2 linked regions of the Homo sapiens genome follow. The protein of the gene in region 2 purifies or fractionates together with the protein of the main gene of each other region. This does not show direct contact. Each region holds a gene or a part of one and is shown on either strand. Other genes may lie near its edges.

What was found. The genes of interacting proteins can lie anywhere in the genome.
Region 1: the proteins of FCRL2 (region 2) and F3 purify together in Homo sapiens (affinity purification with mass spectrometry; one large-scale study listed by BioGRID and IntAct). This does not show direct contact.

The regions. Positions count from the first base shown.
Region 1 is NC_000001.11:94,531,760-94,535,259, reverse strand, and holds part of F3 (tissue factor isoform 1 precursor), read left to right. Parts: intron 1-1,991; coding exon 1,992-2,170; intron 2,171-2,779; coding exon 2,780-2,939; intron 2,940-3,500. UniProt on the Homo sapiens protein: Initiates blood coagulation by forming a complex with circulating factor VII or VIIa. The [TF:VIIa] complex activates factors IX or X by specific limited proteolysis.
Region 2 is NC_000001.11:157,760,133-157,763,632, reverse strand, and holds part of FCRL2 (Fc receptor-like protein 2 isoform 1 precursor), read left to right. Parts: intron 1-3,500. UniProt on the Homo sapiens protein: May have an regulatory role in normal and neoplastic B cell development.

The DNA of each region.
Region 1 (3,500 bases), about 63 Mb from region 2:
ATTTAGATAAATGCATGTAGCACATTGAGTAGAGTGAAATTAGCTTCTCTTGTAAGGCCAGCTGGTTAGAATGAAGGTGTTGTGTGAGTGTTAGGCCCAGCGAGAGAGAACAGTTTCTCAAGGTAGGAATGGTGAAAAGAAGGGGTGGACGGACAACCAACCAACCATCCTCCTCTGGTATCTACTTTGAGGGTTGAAATAGGGGGCCTGACCCCAGGTGAATGTGGCTGCCTTCCCAGAGCCCCCATTTGCAAGACCCTCCAGACCCCCAGGTGCTTCTGCTTGTGTCTTTTGTGGCACCAGGCAAGAATGTAGCAGCGTCAGCAGCCCCTCTGGTGACTGTGGCATGGTTGACATTCATTTCCCCCCTAATTAATGGCATCCTCATGATTCTCTTTTATATTAATAGTTCTTGAGTTTTTTTGTAAGCTACTTCAAATCCTTTGTTGGTGCAAGATAGAAGATATTTTATGTGTTTGTTTTGCATGTGCACACACATATTTGGCCTGTGAATTGATGTTTGTTTTCCTGTCATTTAACCAAAGCACATGAGATAATTGAGCCATTGCAGAGACCCCGTGGTTAAATCCGGCTTCTCGAGGTACCAAGGACATTTCCTGGGCTTTCTCACAGCCCTACATATTTTTGAACCTAAAATATCGTAGTTTATGCTACCACCCTGTTCAGTATAGTAGCCACTAGCCACATGTGGCTGTTGACCACTTGAAATATGGCTAATGCTCTAAGTATAAAGTACACACTGGAATTTAAGAAGTGTAGAATATCTCAAAACTTTTTTATATTGATTACACATTAAAATGATTATATTCCAGATATATGCAGTTGACTCAAGCAATGCATGGCTGAGAGGCACCGACTCCCTGTGCAGTTGAAAATCCGAGTATAACTTGACTCCCCAAAAACTTAACTACTAATAGCCTACCTATCGGTTGACTGTTGACTGCAGCCTTACCAATAAGATAAACAGTCAATTAACACACATTTTTCATGTTGCGTGTATTATATACTGTATTCTTACAATAAAGTAAGCTAGAGGAAAGAAAATGTTATTAAGAAAATTATAAGGAAAAGAGGCTGGGCATGGTGGCTCGTGCCTGTAATCTCAGAACTTTGGGATGCTAAGGCGGGTGGATCACTTGAGGTCAGGAGTTCAAGACCAGCCTGGCCAACATGGTGAAACCCCATCTCTACTAAAAATACAAAAATTAGCCAGGCGTGGTTGTGGGTGCCTGTAATCCCAGCTACTTGGGAGGCTGAGGCAGGAGAATCACTTCAACCCAGGTGGAGGAGGTTGCAGTGAACTGAGATTGCGCCACTGCACTCCGGCCTGGGTGACAGAGCGAGACTCTGTCTAAAAAAGAAAGGGAAAGAAAGAAAAAAAAGAAAAGAAAAGAAAAGAAAGAAGGAAGGAAGAGAAAGAATTATAAGGAAGAGAAAATATATTTACTATTGATAAAGTGGAAGTGGATCATCATAAAGGTGTTCATCCTCGTCATCTTCATGTTGAGTAGGCTGAGGAGGAGGAGGAGGAGGAAGAGCAGGGGCCACGGCAGGAGAAAAGATGGAGGAAGTAGGAGGCGGCACACTTGGTGTAACTTTTATTTAAAAAAATTTGCATACAAGTGGATCCACAGAGTTCAAACCCATGTTGTTCAGGGGTCAACTGTCTTTGGTTAAATAAAATATATTATTAAAATTAATTTCACCTGTTCCTTTTTACTTTTTCTAATGTGACTACTAGAAAACTTAAAATGACATCTGAGGCTCCATTGTCTTCCCCTTGGGCCAGCACTACCACAGAATGTCTTAGGATTCAGCTCCAGGCCGCCACGCCTGCTTCTTTCAGGGAGCTGGTTCTATGCACATGTTTTATATGAGAGATAATTAAGTTGTCAATTGTGATAACAAAACAGGATTTGACTTTGTACAGAATTCTTTGGTTCCAACCAAGCTCATTTCCTTTGTTTCAGCAAACCTCGGACAGCCAACAATTCAGAGTTTTGAACAGGTGGGAACAAAAGTGAATGTGACCGTAGAAGATGAACGGACTTTAGTCAGAAGGAACAACACTTTCCTAAGCCTCCGGGATGTTTTTGGCAAGGACTTAATTTATACACTTTATTATTGGAAATCTTCAAGTTCAGGAAAGGTGAGCATTTTTTAATTTGTTTTTATGACCTGTTTTAAATTGTGAATACTTGGGTTTTACAACCCATTTCTTCCCCAATTCAAAAATAGCAGAACAGAGTTGTTGAGAAGGTGATGGAGTAGAAGGGGGAGCGCGCACTGTGGGGAGGGGTGGACAACAGGCCTGGTCCTACCTGTGACTCTGCACTACCCTGTGACTCTGGGCAGGGCCCCCTCGGAGACCCAGGTTCCTCAGCCAACCGGCTGGATCAGGTCATCTCTAAAGGTCCCGCCATGCTCACATTTCTCCCTCTATTGAGGATCCCAGGCACAAAATTTGTTTTTGGTTCAATGCATAATACTCCCTTCCTTTTTCTTTTACTGCAGATATCTTCTAAAGGGGCTCAATAGGGTTCAATATGCCTAAATTGGATCTTCTCAGTCTTGGAAAAGGCATTTTTAGCAGTGATCAAGGGAAACTGATTAGCGAAGTCACTTCTAATCCTTCACGTGTCAGCTGTGTTCTTGTAGGCTTTGCTTAGAACCTAGGTTTTTACTTCCACAGTGACTTAATAAAGGGGAAAGAATTGACTCAGAGCCCAGATGAATTAAGAACTCTATCTTTTTACAGAAAACAGCCAAAACAAACACTAATGAGTTTTTGATTGATGTGGATAAAGGAGAAAACTACTGTTTCAGTGTTCAAGCAGTGATTCCCTCCCGAACAGTTAACCGGAAGAGTACAGACAGCCCGGTAGAGTGTATGGGCCAGGAGAAAGGGGAATTCAGAGGTGAGTGGCTCTGCCAGCCATTTGCCTGGGGGTATGGGTGCTGTGGGTGACTTCTGGAGGAGTAGCTCCACCCTCAGGGCTGGGATATACTTCCTTGGTTAAATATTCAGGAAAACAAACTGCCTGGAGGTTTTTTGTTGTTATTTGTTTGTTTTGGTTTTGATTTTGCTTTGGTACAAAAAAGATTTTGGACATTTAGAAATGTTTCTGTGTTGATTGTGCCCTTGTATTAGCAGGTGTTTTCTTGAGCACCTGTCATGTGCTAAGCCCTCTGCTGAGCACTGGATACACAAACTGTGTTTAGGATTTAGCAACAAGTCACAGATTTCCCTGGGCATTTTTTCATGCTTAAATTCTAATTCTGGGGGTGGCTTCTGGACCAGCTGCAGCAGGACACAGTAGACATTCGTGAGTACCCACTGTGGGCTGTTGCCACAGAGGCTGTAGAGTCTAACCCATCAAGGGAAGGGATTGAGTATATCAAATATACCCACATGCATGCATGTGTGTATATGGCGGACACGTGTGTGTACATGCATGTGCATATGTTGGGAGCTCAGG
Region 2 (3,500 bases):
TTACAGGTAAAGTACGTTTCTTACAGGTAACACAGAGTTGGGCAACATTTTTAATACCCATTCAGCGAGTCTATAAATATATCTTTTCTTTGTTTGTTTGTTTTTTGAGATGGAGTTTTCACTCTTGTCACCCAGGCTGGAGCACAATGGTGTGTTCTTGGCTCCCTGCAAATTCCACCTCTCGGGTTCAAGAGATTCTCTTGCCTCAGCCTCCTGAGTAGCTGGGATTACAGGCACCCGCCACCATGCCTGGCTAATTTATTTGTATTTTTAGTAGAGATGGGGTTTCACCATGTTGGCCAGGCTAGTCTCAAACTCGTGACCTCAAATGACCCTCCTGCCCCGGCCTCCCAAAGTGCTGGGATTACAGGCATGAGCCACGGCACCCCATCTATATATTTTAAGTAAAGAATTTAATCAATTTACATTCAAGGTTATTACTGATATGTGAAGTTTTCTTCCTGTCATATTGTTAATTGTTGTCTAGTTGTTTTGTGTATTCCTTGTTGTTTTTTCTCTTAGTGTGTATTTTCTACGTCTAACAATCTTGGGGAATTTAAGTGGTTTGCAATGCTTACTCGGCCAGTACCTGACGACCAAGCCTCAAACCTAACTTTATTGCACCTCCTGGCTTTACCTATGCATTTTCATGATGGTAAGTATTGTCCTTTCGCTTTCAGGCTTAGGACTCCCTTGAGCATTTCTTACAGGGCTGGGCTAGTGGTGATGAACTGTATCAGCTTTTGCTTATCTGGAAAAGATTTTATTTCTCCTTATTTATGAAGGATATTTTGCTGGATTTAGTTTCCTTCACTGGCACTTTATTTATTTTAGCACTTTGAATATTTTATACCATTCTCTCTTGGCCTGGAAGGTTGGAGTGTATCTTTTGTTTTGTTTTGTTTTGTTTTTCTTTATAGGTGACTAGAGGCTTTTCCCTTGCCATTTAAAAAATTCTGTCTTTGTATTTGACTTTAGACTGTTTTATTATAATGTGCCATGGAAAAGACCTTTTTGCATTGTATGTGCTTGGGGATCTCAGAGGTTTTGTATCTGGATGTCCAAATCTCTTGCTAGACTTTGGAAGTTTTCATCTATTATTTTATTAAATAGGTTTTCTAACCTTTTCATTCTGTCTTTGCCATCTGGGACCCCAATAATTCGAATACTTTTCCAAAAGTATTCAAAAATGTGCCAATTCTTGGTCCTCCAAGTGACTTAATCACATACCCGAAGTGGCTATGCTGGGCCAGGCAGGTGAAAGGATTCTCAGGCCCCTGGGCAGCCAGCATGGTTTGGGCAATGGCAGTGGCAGTGGCAGGTCCACCCTCTGAGTCCCAAACAATGGATACTGGTGTTGGTAGTGGCTGTGATAGGCTGGGCAGGTCAGACTCCAGACCTGCAGATGGTGCATGCGGGTAGGTATCAGTTGTGGTGATAGTGGCAGAATTGGTAAGCCCAACCTCAGGTCCCCTGGAGGAGTGTTAGGTGCCGTCGTGGTGGACTGGGCTGGGCAATTCCCTGGTCTCCAGGCTGTGTGCTCTGGCATGGTCAGGGGAAGGGCAAAACCATGCTGGGTGGGCTTATCCTCATGCTCCCTGATCCTCTCTGCTCTCTTTTCTCAGCAATTCTTCACTATCTTCTTACCACTTCAATGTTTATAAACAGACTTTAAAACTCTTTTGCCCAGCCTTTCTAGTTGTCCTTAGTAGAAGATTGGTTCAAATGCATTCATTAACCATTACTGGAAGTTTGAAGACATCTACCTTTTACAACCAACATATTCCTTAAGCTGCCGTGTCTTTTGGCATTTTCAGCATGACTATATGTTTTTGTAATGTATTATTTCTAATTTGTCAAGAATTTAGACAAATCAGAGTGATTTGTCATACTGAGCCCTATTAATATTTCACAAGTCAAAAAAAATTACCAGTGACCCAATTATTGTGTCATCCACATATGGCAGGTTTACATATATTATCTGTAATTATCAAAAGTTATTTTTAAAAGTGTGCCTTTTGGGGGAGACAAGGTCTTGCTCTGTTGCCGAGGCTGGAGTGCAGTGACACGATCTTGGCTCACTGCAGTCTTGATCTGCCAGGCTCAAACCACCCTCTCACCTCAGTCTCCTGAGTAGCTGAAACTACAGGCCCATGTCACCATACCCAGCTAATTTTTTTGTAAAGATGGGGTTTTACAATGTTACCCAGGCTGGTCTCGAACTCCTGAGCTCAAGCGATCTGCCTGACTCAGCCTCCCAAAGTGATGAGATTACAGGCGTGAGCCACCACTCCCAGCCTAAGTGTCTGTTTTCTATGTCTAACAACCTTGGGGAATTTAAGTGGGTTTTTTTGTGCTCACTCAGCCAGTAAAGGGCAGACCAGAACCTGTATCTGCCTGACTACTATGCCTCAAACCTAACTTTGTTGCACCACCTGGCTTTACCTATTCTCCTCCCATAAGTTTCACCTATGTCAGTAAGGTGTTATTTATTTTAACCTATCAGATACAGGACAAACATGGGGCACATCAGAATCTCAATGATAGCTTTGAAGCTTTTGTAAAACGCTTTCTTACACTTATCTACTGCAACAGGTGAAATAAATTTTGGAACTCATTAATTTTCTTCCACATAGTAAACATTTAAGCTAGTATTTTATTTTATTTTTTACTTCCAACGTTTATTTTAGGTTCAAGAGGTACATGTGCAGGTTTGTTACATAGGTAAATTGGTTGTCTTGCAGGTTTGGTGTACAGATAATTTTGTCACCCAGGTAATCAGCATGATACCAAATAGGCAGCCCTTCCTTCCTTCCTTCCCTCCTTCCTTCCTTCCTTCCCTCCTTCCTTCCTTCCTTTCTTTTTTCATTCTTTCTTCTTTCTTTCTTTCTTTCTTTCTTTCTTTCTTTCTTTCTTTCTTTCTTTCTTTCTTTCCTTCTTTCTTTCTTTCTTTCCTTCCTTCCTTCCTTCCTTCCTTCTTTCTTTCTTTCTTTTCTTTCTTTCTTTTTGACAAAGTCTCACTCTGTCTCCCAGGTTGGAGTGCAATGAACAATCTTGGCTCACTGCAACTTCCACCTCCCGGGTTCAAGCGATTTTCTCGCCTCAGCCTCCTGGGTAGCTGAGATTACAGGTGCCTGCCATGACGCCCAGCTAATTTTTGTATTTTTTTTTTAGAAGAGATAGCATTTCACCATGTTGACCAGGCTAGTCTTGAACTCCTAGCCTCAAGTAATCCACCCGCCTCGGCCTCGCAAAGTGCTGGCATTACAGGAGTGAGTGAGCCACCACGCCTGGCCCCAATAGGTAGCTTTTCAATCCTCACTCTCTTCCCTCCCTCCACCCTCAAATAGGTCCCAGCATCTGTTGTACTCTTCTTTGTGTTCATATGCACTCAACGTTTAGCTCTCACATATCAGTGAGAACATGTGATATTTGGTTTTCTGTTCCTGTGTTAATTCACTTAGGATAATGGTCTCCAGCTCCATCCATGTTGCTGCAAA